Regions from separate parts of the Homo sapiens genome. Here region 2 is linked to region 1. The links come from fine-mapping of genetic effects on gene expression. Tissue or cell type: testis. Region 1 holds a variant in brackets; the other region holds the start of a gene. All regions are shown on one strand. Distances are from middle to middle.

The links. PIP is the estimated chance that this variant, and not a neighbour inherited with it, causes the effect.
Region 2: it holds the start of MICU1, and the variant in region 1 is fine-mapped to the expression of MICU1 in testis (GTEx, PIP 0.95).

The regions. Positions count from the first base shown.
Region 1 is chr10:72,334,825-72,340,900 of GRCh38, forward strand. It overlaps DNAJB12 (DnaJ heat shock protein family (Hsp40) member B12), which reads right to left. Exons shown (of 9, transcript NM_017626.7): 5 at 5,965-6,044; 6 at 3,378-3,487; 7 at 1,700-1,872; 8 at 956-1,107. The coding sequence ends at 986. Among named protein-coding and RNA genes, the nearest start is that of DNAJB12, 17 kb to the right of the region's middle. RefSeq lists enhancers at 1-402, 963-1,082. The variant C/T (reference allele first, on the strand shown) is at 2,653.
Region 2 is chr10:72,623,279-72,628,808 of GRCh38, forward strand. It overlaps MICU1 (mitochondrial calcium uptake 1), which reads right to left and starts at 2,801. Exons shown (of 12, transcript NM_001195518.2): 1 at 2,732-2,801. RefSeq lists enhancers at 2,568-3,105, 2,656-2,805.

The DNA.
Region 1 (6,076 bases):
GCCGGGAGGACACAGGCAAAGGAGGGGGTGGGCAGGGCACCCACACAGAGAAGAACCTTCACTGCTTCTGCCCACACTTCTCTGGGCTTGGCTGAAGTGGCCACCTCTGGCAAACGCTGGGAACAGAGCCCAGCGCCCCCATTCGCCGGGCTGCAGAAGGAGGGAGCCTGCTACCAGCAACTCTCATTTCCCCTCCACCCCTCCTGTGCTGAGCGGCTGCGTCTGACCCTGAACTCATGACCTTCTGTTCCCTTCCTCAGACCGCAGGCGAGATGCCTGGGCAAGGCCGGATGCCTGTGGCTTCCAGGCTGCCAGGTGTGACGGCATTCGAGAGAGTGCCTCAGATCCCACCAGAGGGGGGTGGTCAGGGCCCGCGGCCCCTGCCGCCACCAAGACTGCCAGCTCCCACCCACCTCGTGGCTGCCTGTTCATCTTGCTCCATTTCCTCCTAGCTGGAGGGATGGAGAAAGGGGAGGGCTCTTGGCCCACCTATTCCCACATGGTTCTTCCTGGTATCAGGCAGGCAGTGTGCATATGGGGCTCTCTTGGGCCCCACCATATGTGATGGCCTAAATACCAGGGCACGGACAATAGTCTGCTGTGCTGGAGAAAGGGCCGTGCTGACTGATGGCTGGAGTGGACCAAGAAGCCCCGGGTGGCCCTCAGCAACAGTTTCAAGTTCCCACTCTGCCTGGTTCTGGGGTCCCCCACACCCCTGGAGCCAGGGAGCAGAGCGGAGGAGTGGGGAGGACAGCATCGCTAGAGGGCGGAAACCGACCTTGGTTTCCCAGCAGGCCCCACAGCTGCTCGGTCTCTGGAGGCTGGAGGTCAGGCTGGGGACAGGAGTCTTTGCCACAATCACCAGGCTTCCTCCCTTTCTCCCCCTCCCTCCTCTGCTCATGACCAGGGCCAAAGCTGCCAGGAGTTGCAGGGTGGAGGCAGCCCTGGCTCATACTTGGACCTCGGTGGTGTGGCTGGCCCAGGACTATCCATGCAGGGAGGCCTGCACCTCTGACAGTCGGCTGCAGCTGGGGGTGCCCATCTTCTGTGCTCTGTGGTACATATCTGTGTCGCCAAAGTAGCGTGCCCGGTACAGCAAGCCTTCCTCTGCAAAGCAATGGGACAGGGTTAGTGCACACCCAGTACCTCCCGAAGCCTGCAAGGAAGCCTGCGAGGGCTGTGGAGGGCGGAGGAAAGCTGGTACATGCCCGGGGCTTGGGCAGGGCTGGCCTCCCATTAGGAAGACCATGGAGGAGCAGAGACTACAGTCCTTATGTGGGCGAGGGTGACAGAGGCGCCTTTCTCTAGAATGCAGTGAGGCCAGCCAAGGTGAGACCCTGTCATCCTGGTCAGGCCTCCCCAGGGTCCCACAGACAGATCCAGGAGCACAGTCAGGGGGTGGCCAGGGATCCATCCGCTCCAGTCCATCTCTACACACTCACCTCTGGCAGCCAACATGCTGGGCTGATGGCAGTGATTTACGGGAACCTGAGGAAACTACCAGGTGGCCCCTGGCTCCCAGCCCCGGAGAAACACAGGAGTGGAGACCAGCTCTTGTCTGGGAGGTGGCTGGTGCAGGGCAGTGCCAGGGGCTGGGCCCTCAGAGCACAGGGTGAGCAGGGCTCTCTCCTTCCCCTGCTTTCCAGCTTCATCCCAAGCCACCTCCCAAATACAGCCCCCGCCTTCCCCCCACACTCACTCTGCTGCTTCTCCTTCCAGCAGTTGTTCCGGAGGTTGGCGATATAATCATCTTCCACATTCCGCTCGACTGTTTTGAGGCTGGAGCCTGTGTACTCTTCGGAGAAAGTGTCTCCCACATAGTAGACGACACCCAGGTGGTCAGTGACTCGCCTGTGGATGTGGCCCACGGACCTGGCCAGAAATACCAGGTTCAAAGTGGGTGCGGGTCCCCATGCCCAGGGCACTCTAGGGGTATGGGCCCCAAGACAGGAGGTGCCGCACAGACCAGAGGAGTAGTTGGTTCCCTCTCAAACCAGAGCAGGGACCCGCACACTCCCTGAAAGGAGAGTCTGAGGAAAAGGCAGCGTCCTCCCACACACGTGGCCCAGACCGCAGGACGCCCTGCCTTTAGATCCCTGCTTACCACACTGCTGACCTGGGGCCTTTGGGGAGAGGCCTGGTCTAGGGAACTGGAGACCTGAGAGGGAATCTGGGCTCTGCCTCTGTGCCTCCATCTCCCCATTCATCCCCTAAGCCAATTGTTGCTGAGTGCTTGCCTGCCTATCTAGGAGTTCCCAGTGTAGGGTTAAGAGGCTTAGGAACAAAATGACAGGAAGGGCTCCAGGGAGCCTTATCCTCCCAGCTCCAATCACAGGCTCTGTCAGCTGTGGGAAGAGCCTTGACACCCAGACAGGACCAGTGCTCTGGGGACAACAGTCCCTGCCCTAGTCCTCTGCTCCTCACATCTCTCCAGTTGCAGGGAAAAGGGCTGGCATCTGGCCACAGGGAGCCTGAGCCGGCGGCCAGGGTCCAGTGGACCGACTCTGCCCCCTGCTGGCTGAGAAGGGTCCTGCCAGCTCCCAGCCAGAGGTGGCCACCTTTTGGGAGAGGGGGACCCACCCCACTGAAGATGTGCACCCACTGTGTAGCTGACCCTGGGCCAGGTGCTGGACATCAGTGAGGGGAGCTGAC[C/T]CCCTAACGGCTCATGAAATGTCCTCAAGTTCACTCCTGGCAGTCGAGACTAAGCATTCATTAAACTAATATTGTTGAGCATTTCTAGTGGGCCAGACATTTTATATGCATTACTCATTAATTTCCACAGCAGGTGGATGTTATAATTCCCATTTTATAGATGAGGAAACCAAGGTTATATAACTTGTTTAGGGTCACACAGCTTCTTAGTGGAGAAGCTGGGATTCTAAGCCATGCTTGCTCTGTCTGACTCTAGTGCCCTGTTCTTTCCACAGCCTCAGGAAGCCCAACCAGAGCCGAGGAGCAGAGGTTCTTCGTCAGGGTTGGCAGGGGAGATGGGCAGGGAAGAGTCACAAAGCCGCCGAAATTATATGCAAAACTCTGTGTGTATATGTGTGCGTGTATGTGTGCATGTGTATTATGTGTGTGCATGTATTGTGTGTGTGTGTACATGTGTATCGTGTGTGTGTATGTGTGTGTGCACATGTGTGCATAGTTTTAGGGAAAAGTTCTGTAGCTCTCGCTGCAATTTCTTAGGGGACCATAATCCTAAAAAGCTTAAGAGTCCTAGTTGAATAGAGAAAGTATATTTTCTTGATTCGAAGCCAGGTTTCTGCATTATGATCGCACACTGGCTGGATCAGGATGGGAAAGAAGGCCCCTGATGGGGCTGAGAATTTAAAGCCCCTTGTCTGCCCATGGCCCGGCCTCACCCATGTACTCACGGTCTTGGACTCAGACTGTAGGGTGGACTGGAGACCATGAGCTGGCTGAGAGCTGACACGAGAATCAGGATGAGGATAGGCATCAGCTGCACAAACACCCCTAGCCCGCCCTGGAGGGAAGAGCCAATGTCACTCTGCTGGACCTGGGTGGGGTGTGGTGTCAGCCATAATCACCACTAGCTCCCCTAGAATAGTGGAGCCTGGGGAGACATGACACCACTCTGCCGTTCCCTCCACGAGGCTCCAAAACACAGACGCTCCTTCACCTGCCAGCTTTCCCAGATAAAAACAAAGCAGCAACTGGTGTGAAATACAGGAGGAAGTGAGGTGTCTGCATTTACTTTTGACAGAATGCCAAAAAAAAAAAAAAATCAGCAAAAGTTGCTTCCTCCAGGAGAATGGAAGGCAGGGCTGGAAGGAGACATGCAGTATATACAAGTTTTTGAGATGTGAACCACACAAATATATTACCAATTTAAACATTATGGCCAGTGTGGCGGCTCATGCCTGTAATCCCAACACTTTGGGAGACCAACATGAGAGGAACACGTGAGGCCAGGAGTTCAAGACCAGTCTGGCCAACATACACCCCCATCTCTACAAAAAATAATAATTAAAACAAAATAAAAATTAGAAATAGCACTGGTTCTAGGGTGCAGAAAAAGCAAACAAACAAAAAAAGAAGAATTAGAAATAAAAATTAACAAATATATTCACTGTGTGATAATCTGTGATGTTAAACTCTTCTGTTGTTAGATACAAAATAAAAAAATTTTGATCAGGGGCAATGGCTCATGCCTGTAATCCCAGCACTGTGGGAGGCTGAGGCAGGAGGACCACTTGAGCCCAAGAGTTTGAGACCAGCCTGTGCTCAAACAGCAAAGTAAGACCCTATCTCTACAAAAAATACAAAAAATTAGCTGGGTGTGGTGGTGTGGGCCTGTGGTCCCAGCTACTGGGGAGCCTGAGGTGGGAGCTTTGCCTGGGAGGGGAGGCTCCTGCACTCTAGCCAGGGTGACAGAACGAGACCCTGTCTCAAAAAAAAAAAAAAAAGGCCGGCATGGTGGCTCACGCCTGTAATCCCAGCACTTTGGGAGGAAGGGGCAGGCAGATCACGAGGTCAGGAGTTCGAGACCAGCCTGGCCAACATGGTGAAACCCCGTCTCTACTAAAAATACAAAAATTAGCTGGGTGTGGTGGCGGGCGCCTGTACTCCCAGCTACGTAGGAGCCTGAGACAGGAGAATCACTTGAACCTGGGAGGCAGAGGTTGCAGTGAGCCAAGATTGTGCCACTGCACTCCGGCATGGGCAACAGAGCGAGACTCCATCTCAAAAAATTAAAAAAAAAAAAAATTGAATAAATATTGTCAGAGCAAAAGGAAACCCCTTCCGCCTGGCCAGAATTTAAAATGTTTTGCAATTGTCCACAATATTTTAATTTTAGCCAGCTAGCTGTTCTTTGATCTGTGGCATACAAAATGTGTTTGAAGCACTGTCTAGTTATAATTTTTATACTTTTTTTTTTTTTTGAGACGGAGTCTTGCTCTGTTGCCTAGGATGGAGTGCAGTGGCACGATCTCGGCTCAACACAACCTCTGCCTCCTGGGTTCAAGTGATTCTCATGCCTCAGCTTCCCGAGTAGGGATTAAAGGCGCCTGCCACTACGCCCAGCTAATTTTTGTATGTTTAGTAGAGACGGGGTTTCACCATGTTGGCCAGACTGCTCTCAAACTCCTGACCTCAGGTGATCTACCCACCTTGGCCTCCCAAATTTTTGTAAATATCTTTTTAAAAGTATCTTTTGGCTTTTTAGCAAGAAGAGTCGGCACCTATGTTGTCATCCTTTAAAATTCTCTCAGTGGCAGAGCGCAGTGGCTCACGCCCATAATCCCAGCACTTTGGGAGGCTGAGGCGGGTGAATCACCAGAGGTCAGGAGTTCAAGGCCAGCCTGGCCAACATGGTGAAACCCCATCTCTACTAAAAATACAAAATTAGCCGGGGGTGGTGGCACGCACCCGTAATCCCAGTTACTCGGGAGGCTGAGGCAGGAGAATGGCTTGAACCCGGGAGGCGGAGGTTGCAGTGAGCCGAGATCGCGCCACTGCACTCAGCCTGGGCGAGAGAGCAAGACTCCATCTCAATTAAAAAAAAAGAAATTTCTCTCACAAAGTTGAGAGAAAATAGCTGAGACCCATGAAAAAAATGAAAAATAAAATAAAATTCTCTCACAAAGTGTAACTTTCCATTGCTTAGAGGATGTCACTTTGGCCTTACCAGCGAGCGGTCTGCATGGGAGCCTCACACTCAAACCTGGCTGTGGGTGGGGTTTCTGGTTCCACTCCCCAGCCAGGCCAGCAAAGCCGCGCTCCCGCCGGCAATGTGGAGCATGGCTCCCTCGTGTGGCGCCCTCTGGTGTCACTCAGCAGAATGGCAAGGGAGGCCCAGAGGGCTCCTTGGCTGAGAGTTATGGGGACTCTGCTGGTCCCAGAATGGACAGTGTGGGAGGGAACACCCTCCTCCAAGCCCCCTCCCTGGGGTGGATTTGGTGCCCTTCCCGCGCTGTCCCTGGCGCCCTCCTCACTCACATCACCCTGGTTGTCCCTGCGGTCCTGCCTTTGCTGGTAGGTATAGCGCATGCGGCCGTTGCTGTAGACGTGGACGTTACCTGGGGGTCAGAGGGGCTGAGTCAGGAGCCAG
Region 2 (5,530 bases), 290 kb after region 1:
AGACAGAGCGAGACTCCGTCTCAAAAAAAAAAAAAAAAAAAAAGACAAGAAAAGAAAAGGGAAGGGGAGGGGAGGGAGAAAGAAAGGGAGAAGAAAGAAAAAAAGAAAAGAAAAGAAAGAAAAAGAAAATATGTGTGGAAAAAACAGTTGAGTAAACCTTTTTAAAAAAACTGGTTCTAGTGGCTAGGCATGGTGGCTTGTACCTGCAATCCCAGAACTTTGGGAGGCCAAGGCGGGAGGATCGCTTGAGTCTGGGAGTTCCAAGACTAGCCTGGGTAGGCCAGGTGTGGTGGCTCAGGCCTGTAATCCCAGCATTTTGGGAGGCCGAGGCAGGTGGATCACCTGAGGTCGTCAGGAGTTCGAGACTAGCCTGGCCAACATGTAAAACCCCATCTCTACTAAAAATACAAAAATTAGCCAGATGTGGTGCCGCGCCTGTAGTTCCAGCTACTTCGGAGGCTGAAGCAGGAGAATTGCTTGAACCCAGGAGGCAGAGGTTGCAGTGAGCCGAGATCACACCACTGCACTCCAGCCTGGGCAACAGAATGAGACTCCGTCCCCACCCCTCAACAAAAGGACCAGCCTCGGCAAAATGGCTGAACCCCATCTCCATTTAATTAATTAATTAATTAATTAAAAACTGGTTCTTATTTTAAAAGGGATACACTAAACAACTGCATATGGAAAAAATGGTTAATGTTCAGCAAGTGCTGCAGCCATTGTAAAAATGGCTCAAGAGATAAAGCTAACTTTAAAGACTGAAGGTGGCAAAATTGGGTTTAAAAAAGCTTTATCAATTATATTAGTCCTATAACTCTGAATAGCATAAGATCTGAAGGAGTTGGTCAGTTAAATATTTCAATTATAATTATTTTGCATAATATTGCATTATGGAGAAATTTCATATCGTTTTATTCTTTTGTTGTTGTTTTAAGAGACAGGGTATCGCTCTGTCGCCCAAGCTGGAGTGCAATGGTACGATCACAGCTCACTGCAGCCTCAACCTCGAGGGCTCAAGCCATCCTCCTGTCTCAGCCTCCCAAGTAGCCAGGACTACAGGCATGCGCCCAGCTAATTTTTGTGTTTTGTAGAGATGGTCTTGCCATATTGCCCAGGCTGGTCTCAAACTCCTAGATTCAAGGGATCCACCCGGCCTCCCAAATTGCTGGGATTATGGGCCTGAGACACCACACCCAGCCTGTTTTATTCTTAAACACAGGAAAGTTAGTCTCAAGATGCACTTCTTAGGAATGTAAACAATCTACTGAATATAGTAAATATAAAGGAAGACAGCAATAAACACTTTTGTTCTCTTGCATTTATTAGCTTCTATTAGTTTCTATCATTCTTTCCCTTTCTCCTCAGGCACACAAGCCACTCCAGAATATTCACTTTTTGTTAATATTATGTTTTATGGCTCTCAGTAAGGACACTCAGAAGATGTCAGAGACACTTGCTTGATATATTAGGTAGCCAGAGTGATGTTCTTAAGTGGAAGAGACAATCAGGGACAAACCAAGGATTGGGACAAAGAGTAGCTGGAGGCAAAAGCCACCTTCCTACAGACAAGTGGCAATGGGTTCTAAAGTTTTTAGGATAAGGCAATATTCAAAAAGCTCATTACCTGGTCCACACCAGAAACACAGTAGGTGGGTCATTCTGGCCAACACCTTTGTCTCAAGATACTGACGTTTATTATTTGTCATATGGTCCAATGAAACCTAAACTCTCCTACAGCTATCCACACCGAACTTGTTTCACCTCATGAAATGCAAACTCCTTTCTTATACTGCTCGATCACTTCCCTACGTGCCCCAAAGGGATGTTCTAATATAAACAAAGGCATATCAAAGAAGCCACCCAAACAAGTGAGATAGAAACATTTATTGATAAATAGGAAGAAAATGGGCGTTTCTAAGGTACCACAGGAAAAATAAAATATTTTACTCTAGTCCCTTAGCTATAAGATATTTATTCTACTTATATTTACTAATGGCCACCGTATTTTTTAAGACATGGAAAATTGGAAGGTAAAGAAACCATCAACCATAAGATTACAGAGAAGGCAACTTGAAGAACAGTTTGTTTTAAACTGTTCTCCCAACATTCACATAGAGTCAATAACATCTAGCTCTTTCTCAAAACAGCCTATGGCCGGCCAGAATGCGACGGTGAAAACAAAACAGGGAGAACGTAATGAAAACGGGAAGGCGCTGGAAAAGATAAAAACTGAACAGTCCGAGTAGCCTGCACTTTGTATTTCTCCTTTGAGTCCTCACTGATTTTCCACTTATTTCGATTCAGTGGTTAATATTTCTCCGTATTAGAAATCCATCTGTGAACTCCCGCACCCACTTCTAACCACATCCACAAATTCCAGGAGAGCCAGTCAAGGCTACCAGAGTGTCCCAGTCGCCTGTGAGGAGGGGGGCGTCGGCGCCAAGTTGCGAACCCGGCACTGGGAGAAGTTCTCCCGGGACGGGAGAAGGGACGGGTTGGGGTGAAGGAAAGTGGAGGACGGGAGGCAAGCAAGACTACGGACTCCTCTCCAAAAGCTGAGCGCATCAGGGAGAGACAGGTATCCCGCCAGACCCGAGAAGTAGCCGGATGCCCGGGGCGGACAAACGGCCAGCCACGAAGCCCAGTTCCCTAAGGCTGTCTCGCCAACCCCCTTCCCCTTCGCCTTCCCTAAATTGCTGTCTCCTTATACCCTCCAGAGTCCAAGACTCACGCGTCCAAACACGAGCTCCAGCAGCCTCTCGGTCAAAGCCGCCCACCTCTGACAGCCATAGAGATGAAACAGCGGAGACAAACCTCCACCCCCTCCGCCCACTCTCACGTGACTCTCCTAGCCGCTGGGCCTGTCGGGATCGTGGAGACAGGCGTGTGGGAGGGGCACAGAGGAAAAGGAACGGGGAGGGGCGGGGAAATCAACGCGCCACGCCCCAGCCTCGGGCCCCGCCCTAGCCCCGTCACTCCCCCTTACTCCCCTCAGCGTTTAGGCGGGAAAGCTGGAGAGCTCCCAGAAGCTCTCGGGCATTTCTTCTGGTTTTTTTCCCCTCCACAAGGGTCATAGGAATCTGTTGAGAAATTTACTGTGGCTTGTAACACCTCCTCGGTACCCGTTTTCGTGTTGGCTATGTTGGCTAAGCAAAAAGGAGTTCGTGAAAAGAAAACTGGACCACAGTGAGTTGGAAATTGTTTCTTTCCAACTCCGTTTAGGTTTTCTCAGAGATTAAATGTTCCTGTTTCATAACCTTGAGACTTTTTTGGATTTAGAAACCCTCACCACTTCCTCTGGTGGATGATTTTGTCAGGTGTTTTATTTGCAGACTAATATTATTGCAGAGTTTATAATCTCTAGAAGCCACTTAAAAACATGTTTTCCCTTGAAGAATGTGTTTTTTGTTTGTTTGTTTGTTTGTTTGTTTTGAGATAGAGTTTCACTCTTGATGCCCAGGCTGGAGTGCAGTGGAGCGATCTCGGCTCTCTGCAATCTCTGCCTCCTGGGTTCAAGCGATTCTCCTGCCTCAGCCTCCCAAGTAGCTGGGATTACAGGCATGCGCCACCACGCCCTACTAATTTGTATTTTTGGTAGAGACGGGGTTTTTCCATGTTGGTCAGGCTGGTCTGGAACGCCCGACCTCAGGTGATCCGCCCACCTCGGCCTCCCAAAGTGCGAGGATTACAGGCGTGAGCCACTGCGCCCGGCTGAAGAAGGTGTTTTTATCAGAAAAATGGGATGGCAAAGGATCCTCACCCCTGCTGTGGAAATAGGATGGAAATATGACTATAATACCAGAGAATTTTTTTGGGGGGGGGGCAGCGGGGTGTTGGTTGGTTGTTTGTTCGTTTGTTTTGAGACGGAGTCTCGCACTGTCGCCCAGGTTGGAGTGCAGTGATGCTCACTGCAACATCCTCCTCCCAGGTTCAAGTGATTCTTCTGCCTCAGCCTCCCGAGTAGCTGAGATTACAGGCACGCCCCACCACGCCCGGCTAATTTTTGTATTTTTAGTACAGACGGGGTTTCGCCATGTTGGGCAGGCTAGTCTCAAACTCCTGACCTCGGGCGATCCTCCCGTCTCGGCTTCCCAAAGTGCTGGGATTAACAAGTGCGAGCCACCTCGCTGGTCCCAGAGAACTTTCAAATAATTTTTTTTTCCCAAGAATTTACGTAGCAGAGCTGTGGAAAAGGCAACAACCATGGAAACAAAGCCAACAAAACCATCCCTGGGGTAAATTGTGAAGTAAGCAGAATCAACTCTGTTTTCTCCATTTCTTCTCAGACCCAACTAACCTAAGTACAATAGATGATTGTGTTCATGGCTCTGTGCTAGCGCTTTACATACAACCCAGTGCTTGTCTACAACCACTCTAGGATGGATACTGTTTTATTCATTTGCAGATAGGGAAGCAGGCTGACACCCCTAGGTAATGCAGTACATGCAGTAGCGGGACATAGACCTGACCTGAAGGCCTCTGAGGCTTCCACTCTTAAATGATGTAATTCAGGCCGGGCGCGGTGGCTCACGCCTGTAATCCCAGCACTTTGGGAGGCTGAGGCGGGCGGGTCAGGAGATCGAGACCATCCTGGCTAACACGGTGAAACCCTGTCTCTACTAAAAATACAAAAAATTAGCCAGGCGTGGTGGCGGGCGCCTGTAGTCCCAGCTACTCGGGAGGCTGAGACAGGAGAATGGCAGGAACCCGGGAGGCAGAGCTTGCAGTAAGCCAAGATCGTGCCACTGCACTCCAGCCTGGGCGACAAAGCGAGACTCCGTCTCAAAAAAAGAAAGAAAGATTTGCTGAAATTCAATTCTAATTTTAGGCAACATTTGTCTATATAAAACTAATCAGTCAAACTAACTGTTAAATAACATTTAAAAACATAAATCATTGTTTCTCAAACGTTTTGGTCTTAGGACCCCTATACACTTAAAAATTATTGAGGACTCAAAATAACTTTTATTTATGTGTGTTATACCTATCGATATTTACCATATTCGGCCAGGCAGAGGCTAATACCTATAATCTCAGCATTTTGAGAGACTGAGATGGGATGATCACGTGAGGCTAGGACTTTGAGGCTACAGTGAGCTATGATCATGCCACTGCACTCCAGCCTGCGCAACAGCGCAAGAACCTGTCTCTATAAACTTTTTTTAATTTAGCATATGAGGACTTAAAATTGAGGCCGGGTACAATGGCACCCAGCACTTTGGGAGGCAGAGGCGGCAGATCACCTGAGGTCATGAGTTCGAGACCATCTTGGCCAACATGGTGAAACCCTATCTCTACTAAAAATACAAAAATTAGCCAGGCATGGTGGCACACGCCTGTAATCCCAGCTACTCAGGAGGCTGAGGTAGGAGAATCGCCTGAATCCGGTAGACAGAGGTTGCAGTGAGCCAGGATCATGCCACTGCACTCCAGCCTAGGCCTCAGTGACAGAGCAAGACTCAGTCTCAAAAAAAAAAAAGAGAAAAGAAAGAAAATTAAAATTGAAATTATTTTAATGTGTACTTAGTCA